2 separate regions of the Homo sapiens genome follow, and region 1 is linked to region 2. Evidence: fine-mapped expression QTL. Tissue or cell type: lung. Region 2 holds a variant in brackets; the other region holds the start of a gene. All regions are shown on one strand. Distances are between the middles of the regions. Region 1 holds the start of DNAJB12 (DnaJ heat shock protein family (Hsp40) member B12). Region 2 overlaps DNAJB12 (DnaJ heat shock protein family (Hsp40) member B12).

Region 1 (11,039 bases), 21 kb before region 2:
AGAGTGTTCCCAAGTCATCCCTAGCATACCAGCTCCAAGACCAGGGACTATAATGTTTAACATGACCTGAGCAAGGCGGGGTGTCTCTCTTTCCTGGCCTTTGGACTGAGAGGGACAAATAAAAAGTCAAATTAGCCTCAGGACCAAAAGCAAGACATCCAGTGTGACTCAGATTTGTAAGAAAGGCAGGGGCTCCTTAGACCAGCCTTCAGGGTCAGTTCATAATCCCTTCTGAAACAGCACAGCCTTTCTGAAAACAAACAGCTTAGGGAGGCCCTGTGTGGCGGCTCACACCTATAATCCCAGCACTTTGGGAGGCTGAGCTGGGCATATTACTGGAAGTTAGGAGTTCGAGACCAGCCTGGCCAACATGGTAAAACCCCTACTTTTTGCATTTTGTTAATCTCCACTTTTTGTATTTTGTGAAAATACAAAAATTATCCAGGCATGGAGATGCATGCCTATAATCTGAGCTACTCAGGAGGCTGAGGCATGAGAATCGCTTGAACCTGGGAGGCAGAGGTTGCAGTGAGCTGAGATCATGCCACTGCACTTCAGTCTGGGCAACAGAGTGAGAATCCATCTCAAAAAAAAAAAAAAAAAAAAAAGCAAAAGGAAACAGTGGCCGGGCACGGTGGCTTATGCTTGTAATCCCAGCAATTTGGGAGGCCGAGGCGGGCAGATCACCTGAGGTCAGGAGTTCCAGACCAGCCTGACCAACAAGGTGAAACCCCATCTCTACTAAAAATACAAAAATTAGCCAGGCTTGGTGGCATGTGGCTGTAGTCCCAGCTACTCGGGAGGCTGAGACAGGAGAATTGCTTGAACCTGGGAGGCAGAGGTTGCAGTGAGCCAAGATCGCGCCACTGCACTCCAGCCTGGGCGATGGAGCAAGACTTTGTCTCAAAAAAAAAAAAAAAGAAAAAGAAAGAAACAGCTTAGGGACCAAGATGAGCAGCAGAGGGGGGCAAGGAGAAGAATGCAAAAATAAGGCATAAAGGGCCCCTACCACAAGCAGCCCGCTTCTCCACATCGTTACTGATCTGGACCCTGCCAATCAAGCCAAAGCACTGACCCACAATTTAAATAGGACTTTGTCATTTTATATGAATTGTAGGAAAAGAGAAGGGCTCACCCGTCAGTAGTTGGCCAGTCACAATCCAGTTCCCTAACACAAGAAAATGACAGACTTTCTTTTCTACTTGATTGCCTTCTTCACAGTGTGAAGTAGAGTCATGCACCACATCATAACATTTTGGCCAACTACAGACAGCATATATGACAATGGTCCCTTAAGATTATAATGGAGCTGAAAAAGTCCTATTGCCTAGTGACATTCATAGCCATCATAAGGTCATAGCACAATGCATTACCTTTTCTATGTTTAGATACACAAATACTTCCCATTGTATTCGGTATGGTAATGTTCTGTACAGGTATGTAACCTAGAAGCAACAGGTCATACCTTAAACCCTAGGTGTGTAGCAGGCTATACCAACTTAGGTTTGTATAAGGACTCTATGATGTTCGCACAGTGATAAAATCACCTAACAACACTTTTCTCAGAACATATCCCTGTCATTAAGTGACACATGACTGTATCTTGTAGTCAGCAGGAGAAGACAGGCCTCATGATAGGAAATGGAAGAGGATACTTCATGATTCTTAGCAGGAGACAGGAAGATGGAAATTGTCGTGCTAGGTCAACAAACCTCAGAGAGGCTGTTTGAAAAGGATCCCAGCATTTATCCATGGACACATTAGGGACCTATCAATTTGTAGAGAACTTAAATTTCTCCAAGTGTAGGACTGTCTTATCAAGGAGGGTCTGTACCAGGCCAGCATGGAGTCGTAAGGGTTTGCATTGGAAAGGGAAAAATGGGAATGGAAAGGAAGGTTGGATGTGAAAGAATTTTCCAAGGAGCATGTATAGCTGAGGAGGCCATGACCTTGCTTCTTTCTTATGTGTGTATTTATTTATTGAGACAGGGTCTGACTCTGTGCCCAGGCTAGAGTGTAGTGGGGCAACCATGGCTCCCTGCAGCCTCGACCTCCCAGGCTCATAATCCTCCTGGGTAGCTGGGAGTACAGGCGCATGCCACCACACCTGGCTAATTTTTGTAATTTTTTTTAGTAGAGATAGGGTTTCACCATGTTGGCCAGGCTGGTCTTGAACTCCTGACCTCAGGTGATCCACCCACCTCACCCTCCCAAAGTGCTGAGATTACAGGTTTGAGCCACTGCGCCCAGCCACCTTTACTCTCTTGAATCCATTCCTGTTGGGTTTTCACCCCTACCACACACTAAAAGCCATTTTATGGTCAGGCACAGTGGCTCACACCTGTAATCCCAGCACTTTGGGAGGTTGAGGTGAGAGGATCACTTGAGCCTAGAAGTTTGAGACCAGCCTAGGCAACACAGTGAGACCCCATCTCTAAAAAAAAACTTAAAAAAAAAACTAGCCAGGTGTGGTGGAGCACTCCTGTAGTCCCAGCTATTCAGGAGGCGGAGGTGGGAGGATTGCTTGAGCCCAGAAAGTTGAGGCTGCAGTGAGCCATAACTGTGCCACTGCACTCCAGTCTGGGTAACAGTGAGACCCTGTCTCAAAAAAATAAAATGAAATAGATAAAAGCAATTTTGTCAAAGTCAACACTGCCCTCTACACTGCCAAATCCATTGGTCATTTCTCAGGCCTCACATTGCTTGGCCTCTCCACAGGATATGACGTTTGACCCCCCCTCCCTCCTTTTCTAAAAAAACTGTTTGTAGAGACCGTGAGGGGGGGCGGTCTCATTATGTTGCCCAGGCTGGTCTTGAACTCCTGGGCTAAAGCGAGCCTCCCACCTCAGCCTCCCCAAGTGCTGGGATTACAGGCATGAGCCACCATACCTGACCTACTCATTTCCTTACAACCTGCTTCTTCACATTCTCCTTTACTGGATTTTCTTCCTCTTCCAGATCTTTAAATGTTGGGATTTCGTGAGGCTCAGTAATCAGACTTCTCTGCTCTTCTCCATCTACACTCACTTCCTTGGTGCATATATATATATATATATATATATATATATATATATATATATATATATATATATATATATATCACAGCTCACTGCAGCCTTGACCTCCCATGCTCAAGTGATCCTCCCACCTCAGCCTCCTGAGTAGCTGGGACTACAGGCGTGTACTACCACACCCAGCTAATTTTTTATTTTTTTGTAGTGATGGGATCTCACTCTGTTGCCCAGGCTGGTCTCAAACTCCTTGCCTCAAGTGATCCTCCCACCCCTGGCCTCCCAAAATGTTGGGATTATAGGAGTGAGCCACTGTGCCTGGCCCCAAAGTTATATTTCCAGGTCCTTTTTGCCTAAACCCTACGTATGTACAACATCCTAGTCTGTATCTCTGCTTGATTCTAAAAAGCATCATAAACTGAATCAAACCCTTAATATTCCCCCACCAAACTGCTTTTGTAGTCTTTTCCATTTCCTTGTTTTAGTAAATAGAAATTCTCTTCTTCCAGTTATCAAGCCAAAAACATTGGAATCATCCTTGAATCTTCTTTCTCTCACAGCCCACATCCATTGCGTCATTCTGTCTTCAAAATATATCCAGAATTTTACTACTACTCACCACCTCCGCCATCACCCTTATCCAAGTTACCATTAATTTTCACCTGTATTATAATAGTAGCTTCCTGACTCTCATCCGGATTACTGTAGTAGCATCTTACCAAATCCTGCCTGAAAGGCCAAGCAATGTAAGGGCTGACAGATGACTCGGGGATTCGGCAACGTGGAGGTCACTGGCAACCTTCACAAGATTGCTTTCACTGGAGTGATAGCCCTCGAAGAACGGGATAATGATAGAACTGGATTACACTCTGTAGTAGAATCTTTTTTTTTTCTTCTTTTTTTTTAGATGGCGTTTCACTCTTGTTGCCCAGGCTGGAGTGCAATGGTGTGATCTTGGCTCACCGCAACCTCCACCTCCCAGGTTCAAGCGATTCTCCCGCCTCAGCCTCCCGAGTAGGTGGGATTACAGGCCATGTGCCACCATGCCCGGCTAATTTTGTATTTTTAGTAGAGACGGGGTTTCTCCATGTTGGTCAGGCTGGTCTCGAACTCCTGACCTCAAGTGATCCGCCCGCCTCGGCCTCTCAAAGTGCTGGGATTACAGGCGTGAGCCACCGCGCCCAGCCTGTAGTAGAATCTTTACGCTCCCTAGAATGTATTCGCCTTCCTGATCTGTTATAACTCACCAAGAGAATTCCCTTTTCAGAGCCTTTGCACTTGCTGTTCCTTCGGCCTGACCACCCTTCCTCCAGACAGTCACATCTACCTGTTATCGTTCCTGAATTCTGGTACCTGTTAATGACAGCTTCTGAGAGGTTTCTTTTATCGCGCTATTTAAAATAGCGCCTCCCACTCTCTATCCCTGTGTTTTCCATAATTTTTCTTCAGAGCTTTTATCACTATCTGAATCTATCTGGAGCTCCCCCAGCCTACACACACTGGAATGTAAGCTCCATGAGAGCAGGAGCTTTGTTTTGCTCACCCCTGTATCCCCATCATAAAACCATGCCTCACAAACAGTGGGCACTCAATATCTGTTCAGTGAATAAATAACCTTTGTCTGAAACGTATGTAGTTACATTACGTATATAGATCACCACTTAGTAAACCGTCTGGGAATAACAGGCACTCCGAAGGCCCCAGTCTCATCCCGACGGCTACCACGTGACCTTCCTGAGCTTGGGTTTCCTCCTCCGGAAGATTAGAGGGTTGGCGCATACTCAACTCTAAGACCTCCGGAACATGGAATCTGGGCGTGCACCATTATTGACACCTACACCAGCCGTCCCTTTCTTAGAAGACATACGGTAGCACTTCCACCCTCGCTCAAAACTCGGGAAAGGAGGGGCGGAGGGTGGATGTCATCACTCCGCGCCCGGCTGCCCGCGACGCGCCGGCGGGTGGCGCAGCCCTTCGCTCGCCCGGCCTCCCCCTCCCTGGTTCCGCGTTCTGGTTCCGCCATGGAATCCAACAAGGATGAAGCTGAGCGCTGTATCAGCATCGCCCTCAAGGCCATCCAGAGCAACCAGCCCGACCGGGCGCTCCGCTTCCTGGAGAAGGCACAGCGGCTGTATCCGACGCCGCGAGTTCGCGGTGAGTGTGAGGTGCCGGAGAGACTGGGGACATTAGAACTGATGGGGGGAACACGGGAACGGACCGACGGGAGCAGTTGGGGGAGGGGGAGGGGTGGCGAGGCGCGGCTACGCCTGCGCACTGAGGCGCGCGGTGGCTGCTGGGAGGCGTAGTTTTTCCCTCTTGTTCCTCTGCGGGATGCGAGCCGTCTGGAGACTCGGGCGGCCGGGACTTCAGCTTTCGGGGTGCTGGCGGAGCCCGCTGGGGTTTGAGGTCTCCGAGAATGAAACGCGCTGGCAGCCGGGACGAAGGGAACTTACCTGGAAGTGAACTCGAACTACTTTTCCCAAGGGGCCGTTCGGTAGCCCAGGCCAGTCGCCGGCCTGGGAAATATTACAGTTCAGGAAAATAAACATAACTCCTTTAAGGGAGAGAATGGGCGCTAGACAGGGAGACATTTCTGTTCTTCGGGCGCCAGGGAAAGGCGCTTCCGTATCTTCACTCCCTCTCACCTCTCGGGCTGAGGGTCAGGGACCACTCTCCCAAAATGCAAGCCGGCCTTTGCACCCACCCCAGTCCGCCGCCTCGGACTGTCCTGAAGCCGGGCCCCTCACTCCTCCCGATGATGAGATTCGGAGCGGGTGGCCTGGTGGGAGGTGCTGACCTCAGCCACCGCCAGTCCTCCATCGCCCGCAAGAGTCCAGCGGCGGTCAGCCATGTGGACGCCGAGGCTGCTGAGTTGCCCTGGACAGGAGCCTCCTGAGCCAGGGAGGGAAGAGTGAAGCTGGCTTTACAACTCATCACCTCGCTTCACCCGGGAACCCTTTCTTTTTTCTTTAACCTAAGTTTTCCAAGGAGTTTTTCTTAATCCACGCTAGAGGGGAGAGAGACACCGGGTGGTGCTTGTGATCACCACTCAGTAAACCGTCTGGGAATAACAGGCACTCCGAAGGGCCCAGTCTCATCCTGACGGCTACCACGTGACCTTCCTGAGCTTGGGTTTCCTCCTCGGGAAGATTAGAGGGTTGGCGCAGATAATGTGATTGGCAATAATACCCATAGGGCTTTGCAGTTTAGGAAGCTCCTTCACCTGTGCCTTCTCACTTGAGCCTGCCAGTCAGGGATGCAGAGCAAAGATCATTATCTTTATTCTATGGGTGAGGAAAATCTCTGAGGTAAGGGATGCCCAGGATGACACAGCTAGAAAGTAAAATGTTCTGTGACTCTGTAAATGTTTATGAAGGAAAAGAAATGAAATTGAGGAACAGCAGTCAGCCTCCTAACCGGCCCTGCCCGCCTGATGAGATTGAGAAAGCGGAACGCTGGTGGAAGAGGTAGCCTGGACTGCTGAACTTTCCTCCCTCCGGACTCTTGCAGGTTGATCTTTGGCCTGTTTGCCTCCCCTTGGAGAGGGTTTCGGGCTGTATTTGCCAGGACACCTGAGGTAACCTGCTCGAGGAGCCTCCCTGTGAATTAATTCATATTCTGTGGTGGGGTGGTATCCTCCAGCTGTCAGAATTCTGCCTGACACTGATGCTGCTGCGGGCTCAGGAGCAGGCAGCCAAGAAAGGATGGGCCACAGGGCCTCTGGGGATCTTTCTGTCAGCAGGCCCCTGCACCAGTTCAGGAGCTTGAAGGAGTGTCCTCTCTGGGGCTCAGGCTCTGGAATTTGCTGAGACAGAAGAACCACCTGCATGCATATTTGTCATATTTGTGCTTTTCTGGAAAGACTATGAGACTATACGCCTTATGCATCCGTGTAAACTTTACCATCTGCAGCCCTCCACTGAGCTGACAAAGACCTGGGATTAGTTTAGGTCTGGGACAGGGAAAGATCTTACTTCAAAAATAGAGGGCAGGGCTACCCACTGGGCTGGCTACCTGCCTCCCCAGGGGGAGTAATACAGATATATTAGGTGGCGGTCTATTGCTTTGGGTTTAGGCTCATCCCAGATGCTCATTCAATGCAGCAGACTTTTGTTGAAGATCATTTATGTTTTGTTTGCAAAGTCCTCTGCTTGGTGCTAGCAAGATTGGTAAAATGTGATCCCTCACCTCAAAAGAGCTTATAATCTAGTGAAAGAGACAAAACTTACAGAAACAAATATTACAAGACAGAACTGTAATTAAACAAAAAATAAACCCAAGGTTAGACGCTGAGGACTTAAGGACAGGCATGAAAAAATCAGGCCCCATCATCCATGGGTTCACAGTCTGATGGTGGGGAGGAGGTGCGGAGGACAATCTCCTGAACATTAAATTATCAGCAGTTTAGTGAGTGCTGTAGCAAGTGCATAAAAATAATGTTATCTCACAGTGAGGGAATGCTTTGGGGATGACAGGAGTTAACATTTGAATTGTGCTTTGGAGGACGGTGTGAGACTTGAGGAAAGGCATCCTGGAAGAAGACAAAGGAGCTGAAAGTTGTAACGTTTGGGGGAAGAGATCAAAGTGTAGCAAGATTTAGAGGCAGTGGAGGTGGTAATTCGTATACAGAGAGGATTAAGTTTGGGAAATAAAATGGGGCCAGATCATAGAAATCCTTTTCTACCAGGCCAAGATATTTTCACCTTATTCTGTAGTTAGTGAGGAAACCATTGAGGTTTTTGATAGCAGGAATAAAGTACGGGCACTGTTGTTAAAAGAGAACAGCATGAAAGGTTAATGAGAGGGAAGAGAGCTTCAGGGCAGGAAGCCAATAGGAGAGAATTGCCTTGAGCTGGTTGGATATTCTGAGGGCCTGGGACAAGGCAGTCATGGATAAGGCTAAGGTCCCTGGAAAAGAGGCACCAGGCCTGTGTGAGAGAGAGGTGCAGAGGAGAATCAGATGGGATGCTGGGGAATCAGAATTGAAGCCCCTGTGACCAGGAAGAAACCAGGCTGAAGAACTGAGATGGGAAGAGATGAGCAGAGTGGGAGGTGCCAGTGGGATAGTCCAAAGGAGCTGTCAGCCTGGAACTCAGGAGAGCGCTCCAGGTTACAGGTGAAAGTGTGGTATCGTCTGTTCCCTGGAGCTCACTGGAGTTGTGCATGGCTGAGGTCACTGTGGGAAAGTATAGACCATGGAGAGAAAGTTGCTGCAGGCACAATGGCAGGCAACACCTGCCCTGAGCCCACAGGCAAAGGCAGAGGAAGCAACAGATTGAGATGGAGCAACAGGAAAAGGCAGTCCCCGGAGAGGGCAGCGGCCAGGTAGCCATGGAGAGGTAATGGCAGCAGGTGGTGAGCAGCCCTGTGTGATGCCGCAGGCACTGCATGGGAAAAGGACAAGTTAAGAGTTGAAAAGGGAAGGATCGAGAGCATGGGCAGAGGATGGTCTTGGAGAGGTGGAAGGGCAGAGAGGGGAGAGTCACGAGAGAGGGGAGGCTCAGAGCAACCTTGAAAGGATGAGGGACCTCACACTGTTGGCCTTTGCAGCAAAAAGGGATGTGAGGGGGCTTGAAACTCCTGCTGCAGGAGGTGGGACAAGGAGGCACTGAGTTAAACTGCAAAGCAGTAGCTGGGCCCTAAGCTGGGAGGTCACAGACTAGAGATGGTGGAGCCAGTCAGTCCCTTTCTGGGAGTTTCTGTCCAGTAGCTGGCAGCCTGGTAAGCCATTGGCTTTGACTCAGGCTTTGTAACAAATGTGGAAGGTGCCAGATTTCCCAGGGAGCTCACGAGAGCATTTGTAGGCCTCAGTTTCCCCAGCATACAAAGAGAGGATTGGCTGGGATGATCCTGAGGTTCCTTGCAGCTCAGGCTATCCAATGTTCTGTGAAATGGTTGACTCTGGGCTAAGTCATGAAGGCCAAGCTGGGAAGGCCAGCCCACAGGAAAAGGAGACGGATTGCTGAGGGATTCTGCATTCAGAGTCCAGGAGTGAGAGATGTTCTGGTGCTGGCGAGGTCCGGGGTGGGGTTGTACCCTTCAAGTCAGTCAACCTTCATGAGCCCCACTGTGCACTTAGCCCCCTTCCATTCACTGTATTTCACAGAATCTTATTTACCCCTCAGAGCACTCCTATGAGAGCAGAGATCGTCTCTCCACTCAGGAACCAGCTAACCTGGCAAGGCCACATGGCTAGCCAGCAAAGACCCAGAGCTGTCCATCTCCAATCCCAGGCCCTTTTCTGACTCACTGTGAGCACCGTAGGTACACAGAGCCCAGAAACTCAGCTACTCACTTACTAACAAAGTCACGGTCAGAGACAACACTGTATATTTGCTGGGCATTGGGCTGAGTTTTTTGCTGGCATTCACTCATTTCCTCTTTTAGCCTGTATGATGGAGATAGAGTTTTGCACAGATGAGCTAAGTTACCTTGTCCAAGATGACCCTTCTAGCAAATGGCAGAGCTAGGTTTGAACCCATCGGGCAGTCTTTTTTTTTTTTTTTTTTTTTTTTTTTTTGAGACAGGGTCTCACTCTGTTGCCCAGGCTGGAGTGCAGTGGCACAATCACAGCTCACTGCAGCCTCAACCACCCAGGCCCAAGTGATCCTCCCACCTTAGCCTACCAAACAGCCGGGACCACAGGCATGTGCCACCACACCTGGCTAATTTTTTTATTTTCGTAGAGACAGGGTCTTCCTGTGTTGCCAAGGCTGGTCTCGAACTCCTGAGCTCAATCCATTCTCCTGCCTTGGCCTCCTAAAGTGCTGAGATGACAGGTGTGAGCCACTGCCCGGCCAAATCTAACTCTAGTCTGGGTTCAGTGGCTTTGGCCATAGAAATCCTCTCAGCTCTACCTCAGGTGCCTCTCCACCGCAGCTCTGTTCTCTTCTATCGAATTCCCTTCCTTTTCTAAGTCTGCCAGCTTTACTGAGAAGGTAACATTAAGCTGTTCTGTCTCTTTTTGTGACATTGCCTGTCAGCCTCTGTGCCATGAGGGATGTAAGCATGAAGCTGTCACATCCCCCAGGCCAGAAGAGAGACCCTACTTGCCAGCAACTGGAAATCTTTAATTTCCAACTCAAGCAGAAAGCTTCTATGTGACCCAGGGCACCCCCATTCTCCTTTGGGCTCTCTTTCTGTACTGTAGGGAAATTAGAGTGGCTGATTCCCTGTAACTGCCCTGAAAAGCTTCCAGAATCTTCTCTGAGAGGTACAAGAGAGAGCCTGTCCCATCTCCTGGCTAGTGCTCCTGCTCATCTCTGGTAGTTGAATAACTGGTTATTTTGCCCTTAGGATCTGCCAGGCTCAGCCTGGGCCACCAGAACTTCCAGAGGAACTGAAATAATAAAGAGCTTCTTGAAAAGCTCTAGGAAACAGCATACTGCCTCCTCCTCCTGCCCCGCCTTGACCAATATCTCTTCATCTTTCGGTTTCTCTTGCCATCCCCTTGGTAGCTGGCATGGACCTGGTATCTGGGATGGCCTGAAATCTCATGGTTACTACTGGTTCCAGAGTCTGCTGAGCGCTGAGTCTTTGCCTTCCTGAGCCTTGGAGCTCCCCCGCTACCCAGCCCTCCTCCTCCCCAGCCCCCACCACAGGTTCCCTCACTTCCCTGGCCAGCCCACTTCTGTGGCCAGACACTTCATCAGCCTTGAACCTTCACTCTCTGTCAGACTCGGCACAGGTGCTTACACACATTATCCCATTTCATCCTCCGCCACCGTGACGAAACCAGGGTTCAGAGAGATTTCATAGATCAGCCAGGGTCACACTGCTAGGAATGGCAGAGCTGAGATTTGAATCTGGGCCTTTCTGAATTTGATGTCTCTTCTATGCTTTTGCTTGCATCCCTGTCCCCGATCCCCACCCCATCAGACACGTGCAGCCCAGGATAGCAGCGTAGTTAAGAGCATGGACCCTGGAGCTGGACATCCTGGGGTTCGAAGGCCCCTCTGCCTCCTAACCAGCTGTGTGGTCATGGCAGCAGTCTGCCACAGTACCCTCTTCCTACAGTGGGGTGGGGTA
Region 2 (11,039 bases):
GCAAAGCTCCCACCTCAGGCTCCCCAGTAGCTGGGACCACAGGCCCACACCACCACACCCAGCTAATTTTTTGTATTTTTTGTAGAGATAGGGTCTTACTTTGCTGTTTGAGCACAGGCTGGTCTCAAACTCTTGGGCTCAAGTGGTCCTCCTGCCTCAGCCTCCCACAGTGCTGGGATTACAGGCATGAGCCATTGCCCCTGATCAAAATTTTTTTATTTTGTATCTAACAACAGAAGAGTTTAACATCACAGATTATCACACAGTGAATATATTTGTTAATTTTTATTTCTAATTCTTCTTTTTTTGTTTGTTTGCTTTTTCTGCACCCTAGAACCAGTGCTATTTCTAATTTTTATTTTGTTTTAATTATTATTTTTTGTAGAGATGGGGGTGTATGTTGGCCAGACTGGTCTTGAACTCCTGGCCTCACGTGTTCCTCTCATGTTGGTCTCCCAAAGTGTTGGGATTACAGGCATGAGCCGCCACACTGGCCATAATGTTTAAATTGGTAATATATTTGTGTGGTTCACATCTCAAAAACTTGTATATACTGCATGTCTCCTTCCAGCCCTGCCTTCCATTCTCCTGGAGGAAGCAACTTTTGCTGATTTTTTTTTTTTTTTGGCATTCTGTCAAAAGTAAATGCAGACACCTCACTTCCTCCTGTATTTCACACCAGTTGCTGCTTTGTTTTTATCTGGGAAAGCTGGCAGGTGAAGGAGCGTCTGTGTTTTGGAGCCTCGTGGAGGGAACGGCAGAGTGGTGTCATGTCTCCCCAGGCTCCACTATTCTAGGGGAGCTAGTGGTGATTATGGCTGACACCACACCCCACCCAGGTCCAGCAGAGTGACATTGGCTCTTCCCTCCAGGGCGGGCTAGGGGTGTTTGTGCAGCTGATGCCTATCCTCATCCTGATTCTCGTGTCAGCTCTCAGCCAGCTCATGGTCTCCAGTCCACCCTACAGTCTGAGTCCAAGACCGTGAGTACATGGGTGAGGCCGGGCCATGGGCAGACAAGGGGCTTTAAATTCTCAGCCCCATCAGGGGCCTTCTTTCCCATCCTGATCCAGCCAGTGTGCGATCATAATGCAGAAACCTGGCTTCGAATCAAGAAAATATACTTTCTCTATTCAACTAGGACTCTTAAGCTTTTTAGGATTATGGTCCCCTAAGAAATTGCAGCGAGAGCTACAGAACTTTTCCCTAAAACTATGCACACATGTGCACACACACATACACACACACGATACACATGTACACACACACACAATACATGCACACACATAATACACATGCACACATACACGCACACATATACACACAGAGTTTTGCATATAATTTCGGCGGCTTTGTGACTCTTCCCTGCCCATCTCCCCTGCCAACCCTGACGAAGAACCTCTGCTCCTCGGCTCTGGTTGGGCTTCCTGAGGCTGTGGAAAGAACAGGGCACTAGAGTCAGACAGAGCAAGCATGGCTTAGAATCCCAGCTTCTCCACTAAGAAGCTGTGTGACCCTAAACAAGTTATATAACCTTGGTTTCCTCATCTATAAAATGGGAATTATAACATCCACCTGCTGTGGAAATTAATGAGTAATGCATATAAAATGTCTGGCCCACTAGAAATGCTCAACAATATTAGTTTAATGAATGCTTAGTCTCGACTGCCAGGAGTGAACTTGAGGACATTTCATGAGCCGTTAGGGGGTCAGCTCCCCTCACTGATGTCCAGCACCTGGCCCAGGGTCAGCTACACAGTGGGTGCACATCTTCAGTGGGGTGGGTCCCCCTCTCCCAAAAGGTGGCCACCTCTGGCTGGGAGCTGGCAGGACCCTTCTCAGCCAGCAGGGGGCAGAGTCGGTCCACTGGACCCTGGCCGCCGGCTCAGGCTCCCTGTGGCCAGATGCCAGCCCTTTTCCCTGCAACTGGAGAGATGTGAGGAGCAGAGGACTAGGGCAGGGACTGTTGTCCCCAGAGCACTGGTCCTGTCTGGGTGTCAAGGCTCTTCCCACAGCTGACAGAGCCTGTGATTGGAGCTGGGAGGATAAGGCTCCCTGGAGCCCTTCCTGTCATTTTGTTCCTAAGCCTCTTAACCCTACACTGGGAACTCCTAGATAGGCAGGCAAGCACTCAGCAACAATTGGCTTAGGGGATGAATGGGGAGATGGAGGCACAGAGGCAGAGCCCAGATTCCCTCTCAGGTCTCCAGTTCCCTAGACCAGGCCTCTCCCCAAAGGCCCCAGGTCAGCAGTGTGGTAAGCAGGGATCTAAAGGCAGGGCGTCCTGCGGTCTGGGCCACGTGTGTGGGAGGACGCTGCCTTTTCCTCAGACTCTCCTTTCAGGGAGTGTGCGGGTCCCTGCTCTGGTTTGAGAGGGAACCAACTACTCCTCTGGTCTGTGCGGCACCTCCTGTCTTGGGGCCCATACCCCTAGAGTGCCCTGGGCATGGGGACCCGCACCCACTTTGAACCTGGTATTTCTGGCCAGGTCCGTGGGCCACATCCACAGGCGAGTCACTGACCACCTGGGTGTCGTCTACTATGTGGGAGACACTTTCTCCGAAGAGTACACAGGCTCCAGCCTCAAAACAGTCGAGCGGAATGTGGAAGATGATTATATCGCCAACCTCCGGAACAACTGCTGGAAGGAGAAGCAGCAGAGTGAGTGTGGGGGGAAGGCGGGGGCTGTATTTGGGAGGTGGCTTGGGATGAAGCTGGAAAGCAGGGGAAGGAGAGAGCCCTGCTCACCCTGTGCTCTGAGGGCCCAGCCCCTGGCACTGCCCTGCACCAGCCACCTCCCAGACAAGAGCTGGTCTCCACTCCTGTGTTTCTCCGGGGCTGGGAGCCAGGGGCCACCTGGTAGTTTCCTCAGGTTCCCGTAAATCACTGCCATCAGCCCAGCATGTTGGCTGCCAGAGGTGAGTGTGTAGAGATGGACTGGAGCGGATGGATCCCTGGCCACCCCCTGACTGTGCTCCTGGATCTGTCTGTGGGACCCTGGGGAGGCCTGACCAGGATGACAGGGTCTCACCTTGGCTGGCCTCACTGCATTCTAGAGAAAGGCGCCTCTGTCACCCTCGCCCACATAAGGACTGTAGTCTCTGCTCCTCCATGGTCTTCCTAATGGGAGGCCAGCCCTGCCCAAGCCCCGGGCATGTACCAGCTTTCCTCCGCCCTCCACAGCCCTCGCAGGCTTCCTTGCAGGCTTCGGGAGGTACTGGGTGTGCACTAACCCTGTCCCATTGCTTTGCAGAGGAAGGCTTGCTGTACCGGGCACGCTACTTTGGCGACACAGATATGTACCACAGAGCACAGAAGATGGGCACCCCCAGCTGCAGCCGACTGTCAGAGGTGCAGGCCTCCCTGCATGGATAGTCCTGGGCCAGCCACACCACCGAGGTCCAAGTATGAGCCAGGGCTGCCTCCACCCTGCAACTCCTGGCAGCTTTGGCCCTGGTCATGAGCAGAGGAGGGAGGGGGAGAAAGGGAGGAAGCCTGGTGATTGTGGCAAAGACTCCTGTCCCCAGCCTGACCTCCAGCCTCCAGAGACCGAGCAGCTGTGGGGCCTGCTGGGAAACCAAGGTCGGTTTCCGCCCTCTAGCGATGCTGTCCTCCCCACTCCTCCGCTCTGCTCCCTGGCTCCAGGGGTGTGGGGGACCCCAGAACCAGGCAGAGTGGGAACTTGAAACTGTTGCTGAGGGCCACCCGGGGCTTCTTGGTCCACTCCAGCCATCAGTCAGCACGGCCCTTTCTCCAGCACAGCAGACTATTGTCCGTGCCCTGGTATTTAGGCCATCACATATGGTGGGGCCCAAGAGAGCCCCATATGCACACTGCCTGCCTGATACCAGGAAGAACCATGTGGGAATAGGTGGGCCAAGAGCCCTCCCCTTTCTCCATCCCTCCAGCTAGGAGGAAATGGAGCAAGATGAACAGGCAGCCACGAGGTGGGTGGGAGCTGGCAGTCTTGGTGGCGGCAGGGGCCGCGGGCCCTGACCACCCCCCTCTGGTGGGATCTGAGGCACTCTCTCGAATGCCGTCACACCTGGCAGCCTGGAAGCCACAGGCATCCGGCCTTGCCCAGGCATCTCGCCTGCGGTCTGAGGAAGGGAACAGAAGGTCATGAGTTCAGGGTCAGACGCAGCCGCTCAGCACAGGAGGGGTGGAGGGGAAATGAGAGTTGCTGGTAGCAGGCTCCCTCCTTCTGCAGCCCGGCGAATGGGGGCGCTGGGCTCTGTTCCCAGCGTTTGCCAGAGGTGGCCACTTCAGCCAAGCCCAGAGAAGTGTGGGCAGAAGCAGTGAAGGTTCTTCTCTGTGTGGGTGCCCTGCCCACCCCCTCCTTTGCCTGTGTCCTCCCGGCCTGGATCCATGGCTGACTCTGCCTGGAGGCCATTTGTGCCTGCCTCTGTGCTGCCGCAGGAGGGCAGGCCGCAAGTGGGGTTGGTGGGGGTCGAGCGGGCAGCACGGTGCAGCGGTGCAGTGGCAAGGGGGGCTACTTGTGTGGCATAAGCTAGAGGAGCCGGTGCCGCCTGAATGCCGAGCTAACTGTTGCCACTCTCCTCCCCAGACTATGAAATCCCTGGAGAATTTTTGGTGACATGCACTGAGCCAAGGTGATGGACTGTATATTTGAGGAAAGACAAACAAAGAAACAAAATTAAAATGGAATTGGAGGCCGAACGCTGCACAGCTGCCCTCTCTCTCACCCAGTAAATGCAGAAAGCTCTTAGGACAGACAGAAAACCTGCCATGGGGCTGCTTCCCTCCCTCGCAGGGCTGGCGGAGGCTCCGCATCGCCTCTCTCCTAGGATACAGAAACCATGGCAACGAAAGTAGAATGTAAAACTCGCAGCAGATATCAGTGGGAAGGGCTGGGGGAGGGGGCACCCAGCTGCCTTTCCTCCCTCACAGGAGCCACCACCAGCCACCTCTCAGGAGAAGCCAGAGGCCCTGGCCAAAGATAGGAGGAAGAAAGAGAACTCTCCATAGAATGTAATTTATAGATGCGTGTATATGTATATATATCTATTTATATGTAAATAGGCATATATGAAGATATATATATATA[TAG/G]TCTACTTTTTAAACTCTGCAGGGATTTGGTTAAGTTGTTGAGCTGATTTCTTCCATGTTTTAGAAAATGAGGCCTGTTTGGGGAAGGTACCCTGGTGATGTTTTTGCTAGACATTAGCTGTAGCTGACAGCATAAGGAGAGTCGCATCAGAGCTTTTCACAGCCCCCCGAAACCCCAGCCTGGTTTTGATGGCAGCAGTAATCATGATAGTGTGAACCCGCGAAGGCCTCAGGATTATGGTTAACCTGGAGAGGAGCAGGCCATGGAGGCAGGTGCCAGGTCAGTATTGAGTCACAGTAGAGGCCCCACAAGGACCTGCTTGGGTGAGACCACCTCTCCCCTCTCAGCAGCGCTGGTGGGCTCTTTGTCCTGGTGCCCAGGAGCCCTCCAGCCCCCTGCCCACAGAAGGGAAGGCCTGCAGAGGGGGCCAGGATCTACCTAACCATTTCCCCACCCCTAAGTCCCTCAGTGGGCTTTGCCTTATAGGTGCCACAGGGCACAGCTCCATCATTGCCACTGGTTTTTCCTAAGTCATGCACCAAGGACTTCAGAAAGTTCTTCCTCCGAGTCAGTCAGTGGTGCCGGGACCCCAGGGCAGCCTCCTCGACTCCTGAAGAAAAGGCAGTGCCCGTGGCTGCCTCTGTCTTCACTCGCTGTTGATGTGACCGCCAGGCCTCCTCTCGTACCTTGGACAAAGGATACACCTGAACCAGAATAGTTTTCTTACCCTCACATTGAAATGAGGATTTTGCTTAAAACAGCACTTGCCGCCAGTGGGAGGAGGGAGGTTTTATTTATTCCCACAGTTTCTCCTGGGCCTTCTGGAATGACCATGTTTTCCTGTGGCGGTGGGTGTGTCATTGCGCCCGCCGTCTTCCAAAGCCTTACTTCCCCAAGCTGCCAGCCAGGAGGTGATAACCACCCTCCCAGAGTTTCTCTCGGCTCTTTTTTTAAAAGTCCCCCAACAAATAGGATTCTTGCTGGGAAAGGAAGTTCGGTAAGGAAATGTCAAATCTGGTTTTTAAACAAGGTCCAACCCTGCAATGAAGCAGCCACTTCAGCCCAGAGAGATTATAAGAACTGATGTGGCCAGAGTGCCTACCCACTGTGGCCCCGGTGCTCTGCCCCCACGCCCCGACCATCTGGTCTTGGTAGATGTCCCTAGACGGGCTGAGCCATGTGCAATAAGAACATAGATCCTAAAGGATCCTCTGGAAGCTGTATTTCTTGAATTAGAATTCTCAAATTGTACATCTGTTAATATATGTTTATTATGTGACTGGCCGTGGTGGGTCTGCATTGAGCAGGGAGGCCTAAGGGGTGGGGGGGAGGGGGCACAAGCCCCTGCTGCTGCTGACACTGTCCAGCCTGTGCCACAAGGAGCTCTAGATGATGAGCCTGAATTTCCCCCGACCCCTGGCCCTGGCTAACAGCCACTTAAGCCACACATGCTGTTCCAGAACTAACTCCATCCAGGCAGAGGGGTGCTCAGGTGACTGGGGGGCTGCAGGACCTGAGCAGTCTGGGTCCCTGGGGTCCCCAGCGCCAGTCCTGGCTGGGCATCTGGGCCACGACCATCACCCTCTGCTTTTCCCTCTCCCAATCCCTCCCCCCCACACCCTCAGGCCTGCCATGTGCCCGCAGAGCATTCGAAATTCCCGGCCCCAGCCTGGAGCTCGATCCCACTCAGGAGCCAGATCCTGGGAAAAGTGTTGCGAGTTTGTTTCCATCGTCCTTCCCACCATCCTCCCCCAAACCGCCCCCGCAGCCCGCCCTCCTCTCCAGGAGGTTGAAAAAGTTTAAAATGTGGCAGCCCAAGTCGGGTCGGGCTCCTGTGAATGGAGCGGCAGATCTGCCCAGGCCTCCCAGAGACAGGGCCCGGCAGCCCTGACTGGCGGACCCAGGCCCCTCCCGCGGCTGCACCAGCCAAAGACAGGCGGGCTGCCCAGTGGTGCCACCGTGGCCCGGGAGCTCATTGGCTGCCCCTGCCCAGGGTCACCACTGCCTGCCCTGGTGTGCAAGCCGCCACTTGTTAGCTGCGGTTGGCAGAGGCGTTGCAGGCACCCCCATTCACCCACCTCATCCCCCCTGCCCTCCCTGTGTGGCTTGGCCGTGAGCCAGAGGAGGTGGGATGCACGCTCTGACTGCAGCAAAAAAGGCTTTGACAAGTGTCCCCCACCCACTGTCAGGTGGCAGAACGCGCCACTGCATCCCAGCTCCCTGGCTCCACTAGCTTATAGCCTTGTCCCTTGCTGCTCCCAGGTCCAGAGAAAAAAAAACTGCTCCAGGGACAAGGAGCACACACCCGACCTGCCTGTAACCTCATCCCCACCCCACATTGCCCAGACAAAGTCACCTGGCGTCTGGAGCAGGCACACAGCCATGCCAAGAATCAGGTAAATAGACTGTTGACATGGTTCAGAAGCAACCCAGCGTCCCTACCAGACATCACGCCATGTGACATGAGCAAGTCAGCTCATTTCCCAGAGCAGGAAACAGGCTTGGGGGAGGAAAGTGGCGCCCAGGGTCTTGAAGAAACTGTGCCTGTCTCTGGGGTCCTTGTAGCAGAGTGGTCATTCTACAAACAGTTGCTGAGCCCAAATTTGCTGCACTCAGGGAAATCAAACCCACTGGTGTCAGGTAGAGTGGGCAGAAGACCCGAGTCCAGGAGGGTGGAAAAGGATGAAAAGGCCACACTGAGGATGGTGGCACTTCATCTGATGGGCTTGGCCTAGGGAGCAGCTGCCCATTCCAGTAGGTGTCTCCTGGCAGTGACACGGGCATCCATCTGGCTGCACCAGGAAACGTCATCCCCAGGAGGCAGCCTCGCAGCCCCCACGGGGGCTGAGGCTGGATCTTTGCCATTTACTGACTGGGTGACCTTGGGTGTCCCTGAAGGAGTTCAGGAAATGCCACCCCAAAATCTGCCATTTTGGTGTGCTGATTACTTCAAACTGGGGGCACTTGAGCAACAGCAAGTGCAGGAAGGGCTTTCTCTGAAGTTGCCTCATCTGCCTAAGTTGTCCTGAACTCCCTCCTGGAAATCTTACCTACCAAGGAGGATTGACTCATTGACAACAACTGCCTATTATTCTTGGGGCTGCTCAGACAACTGTTAAGACCTGAGAGACTGACTTTTTTTTTTTTTTTGAGATGGAATCTCGCTCTGTCACCCAGGCTGGAGTGCAGTGGCGCAATCTCGGCTCACTGCAAGCTCCGCTTCCCGGGTTCACGCCATTCTCCTGCCTCAGCCTCCCGAGTAGCTGGGACTACAGGTGCCTGCCACCACGCCCGGCTAATTTTTTTGTATTTTTAGTAGAGACAGGGTTTCACTGTGTTAGCCAGGATGGTCTCGATCTCCTGACCTCGTGATCCGCCCACCTCAGCCTCCCAAAGTGCTGAGATTACAGGCATGAGCCACCATGCCTGGCCGAGACTGACTTTTTATCTGCATAACGAGACAACTTTTGCTCACCATGCAGTTCCTCCCCTCACCCTCCCAAACTTGCATTGCCATCACCCACCAGAAGCTCCCAGCCCGTTTTTTTTTTTTTTTTTTTTTTGGTTTTTTTTTTAAGGTACAAAGGTTATCCTGGACCCCAGTTCCTTTTCTGTAGCTCAAGATGTGATCTTTCTTGAAATTGCATATTTTGTGGGGCTCCCATGCCTATGTACGTAATTAAATATGATTTTTCTCCTGTTAACCACTTTATCTGTCCATGTAATTCCTAGCACAGTCAAAGACCCTAGAAGGGTGGAGGGAGCCAGTTTTTGCTTTCCTGTGTCATTTGACTGCCCTTTGCCTCAGTGTCTTCATCTGCAAAATGGGAGTGATACAAACACCTACCTCATAGGATGGTTGTGAGGAGTAAACAAGTTACCACATATAAAGCACTTAGAACAGTGCCTGGTACATGGCGAGTGCCATTTGGGTGTTTCTTGTTTGTCCTTAGTGGACAAAGATTAGCTGAGCAATGACTGGGTGTCAAGTCCCATTCCAAGCAGTGAAAGCTCCAAGGTGACTGAGACGAGGACTGCCCTTGAGTAGAAACCCTGGGAGCGGAGCAGTTGTGAAGGCTCTAGCCAGGGACTCTTGATAGAGGAACTGGCGTTTGTGAAGGAGGTGGGTACAGGCAGTACTGGGGTGGGGGTGGAGTGGGTGCTCCAGCATGAGCAGAGGCCCGGAGGCCGGAGAGTGCAGAAGTGAGCGCATTTGGGAGCAATGCCCAGGCCAGGCCCCCAGTCTGTACCTGTCATCATGCCAGGCCCACCCAGTGGCCTTGGGCAGAGAACTTTCCCAGGCATGAATGAGAGACACTGAGCTTCTCCACTCCTGGCTGCACCCTGTCCACTCAGCAATTCACTCAGCAAGCATTTCTGAACCTTTCTTGGTGGCCTGCCTGCCCTTAGGGAGGCTGCAACTAACTCTATAAGCTGAGAGAAGGCCATGTGGTGGAGGGGGTAACAGGGCAGACAGGACTGTCACTCCCGCCCCAGACCCTTGTAAGGAGATATTTCCCTAGGGACAGGGCCTGGACCTCCTGTCACTCTCACAGCCACTTGGGCATGAAATAAAGGTCCAGGGCTCAGGCAGGAAGAGGGGCAGGCGGGCAGGCGCTCTCTAGGACCCCACGGCTAGTCTGCCCAGAGCCCGGGAGTTGGGGCTTTGCTTGGGGAGGGGAGGGCCTGCCACATTTTGTCCACCTTCCCCACCCTCCTACCAATTTGGTCTAAACAAAGTCCCTAGGGAGGGAGGGCAGGGCTGCTCCCTGGCTGGATTTTTCCTTGAGGAGGCAGGGTGCAGCTCCCCACTGGAGCCCGTGCTAGTCAGAGCAGGGATCAGGCTAGGGCCTGCAGGGACCCCAGCTGGCAGTCCCACTACCTCGACTGGATTATTCTCATTTTCCTGATGGACTCAGATGAGGAGGCCTGAGAGACAGGTGCCTGGCAGCACAGGAGGATGCAGCGGGCTCCTTCAGATGGAGAAAGTGGGGCCAGAATGGAGCTGGCCAGGCCCGGCCTCATTCCCCCACACTGACAGCCCAAAACCTCCCCTGCACTCCTCCTGGCCCCACATACTGTGCAGGGCCCTCCCACCCTGACTGCAGCCTGCGGAGCCCCTCCCTCCACCGTGGAGCCCTGCTACCCGGGTTCCCTTCTGCCTGAGGTTCCTCTCACCCCTCAGGGCCCAACCTCCTGCCACCTCCTCAGGGAGGTCTGGCCTGGCCCTTTTGGGCCTCTCACATCCTGTTCTGGAGGTATTTGTGTAGTTCTTAGGCAAAGGCTTCCCTGGAGAAGAGGTTCAGGGCTGCAGCCCCAGGGCCTGGGCACCACAACCTGGGGTCTCCATGGGAGGCTGAGTGAAGGAAGGGCCCATCAGCACTGAGGCACTGTCCCCACCTGCAGCATTCCCAGCCTCGCCTACTCCTCTGCCCAGGGTCACCCTAGGGAGCTGCTTTGCAGCCATAAACCCACACCCTGGCTGGGGGACACTTCTCCCAGATCTTAGAGGGCTTAGACCCAGGGCCATCAGCCACGGTGTGCATCCAGCTGGACGGTGGCTGGAGGCAGCAGTCGCTCATGGGACGGGCACTGGGCGGGGGCTTTTTCCTTTTCCTGCCTCCGGGGGGAAGCAGAGTCCTGCTGATCCTGCTGAAAAGGCCCCAGGTCTCCTCTCCCTGCGTAAGGACAAATGTAGCAGGGGCCAAAATGAGAATCACAAACATTGGTCATTGAGAGGAGTGCGGACTCCTGTCCGAAGAGGTCACCACCCCAAGGGGTAGAGGAGGAGGCTCTCTCCAGCACTCAGGCCAGCCACTCCTGGAGTCAGACCCAATTCTGTCCCCGGCCGCCCCAGTGCTGCCCTGGCCACAAGCCCTGGAATCACCTCTGGCAGGCTCTGCCATCTGCTGGCTGCCAGCCCATGGCCTGCGTGCAGAAGGTGGCATCGTGGGCCCTAATTTTGCTTC

Evidence for each region.
Region 1: DNAJB12 starts here. The variant in region 2 is fine-mapped to the expression of DNAJB12 in lung (TOPMed, PIP 0.95). The same link has a PIP of 0.9 or more in monocytes.

The regions. Positions count from the first base shown.
Region 1 is chr10:72,348,891-72,359,929 of GRCh38, reverse strand. DNAJB12 (DnaJ heat shock protein family (Hsp40) member B12) reads left to right here and starts at 5,011. Exons shown (of 9, transcript NM_017626.7): 1 at 5,011-5,165. The coding sequence starts at 5,033. RefSeq lists enhancers at 4,785-5,034, 5,425-5,554.
Region 2 is chr10:72,328,145-72,339,183 of GRCh38, reverse strand. It overlaps DNAJB12 (DnaJ heat shock protein family (Hsp40) member B12), which reads left to right. Exons shown (of 9, transcript NM_017626.7): 6 at 873-982; 7 at 2,488-2,660; 8 at 3,253-3,404; 9 at 4,567-6,321. The coding sequence ends at 3,374. Among named protein-coding and RNA genes, the nearest start is that of DNAJB12, 21 kb to the left of the region's middle. RefSeq lists enhancers at 3,278-3,397, 3,958-4,367, 10,407-10,606 and a silencer at 6,874-7,123. The variant TAG/G (reference allele first, on the strand shown) is at 5,068.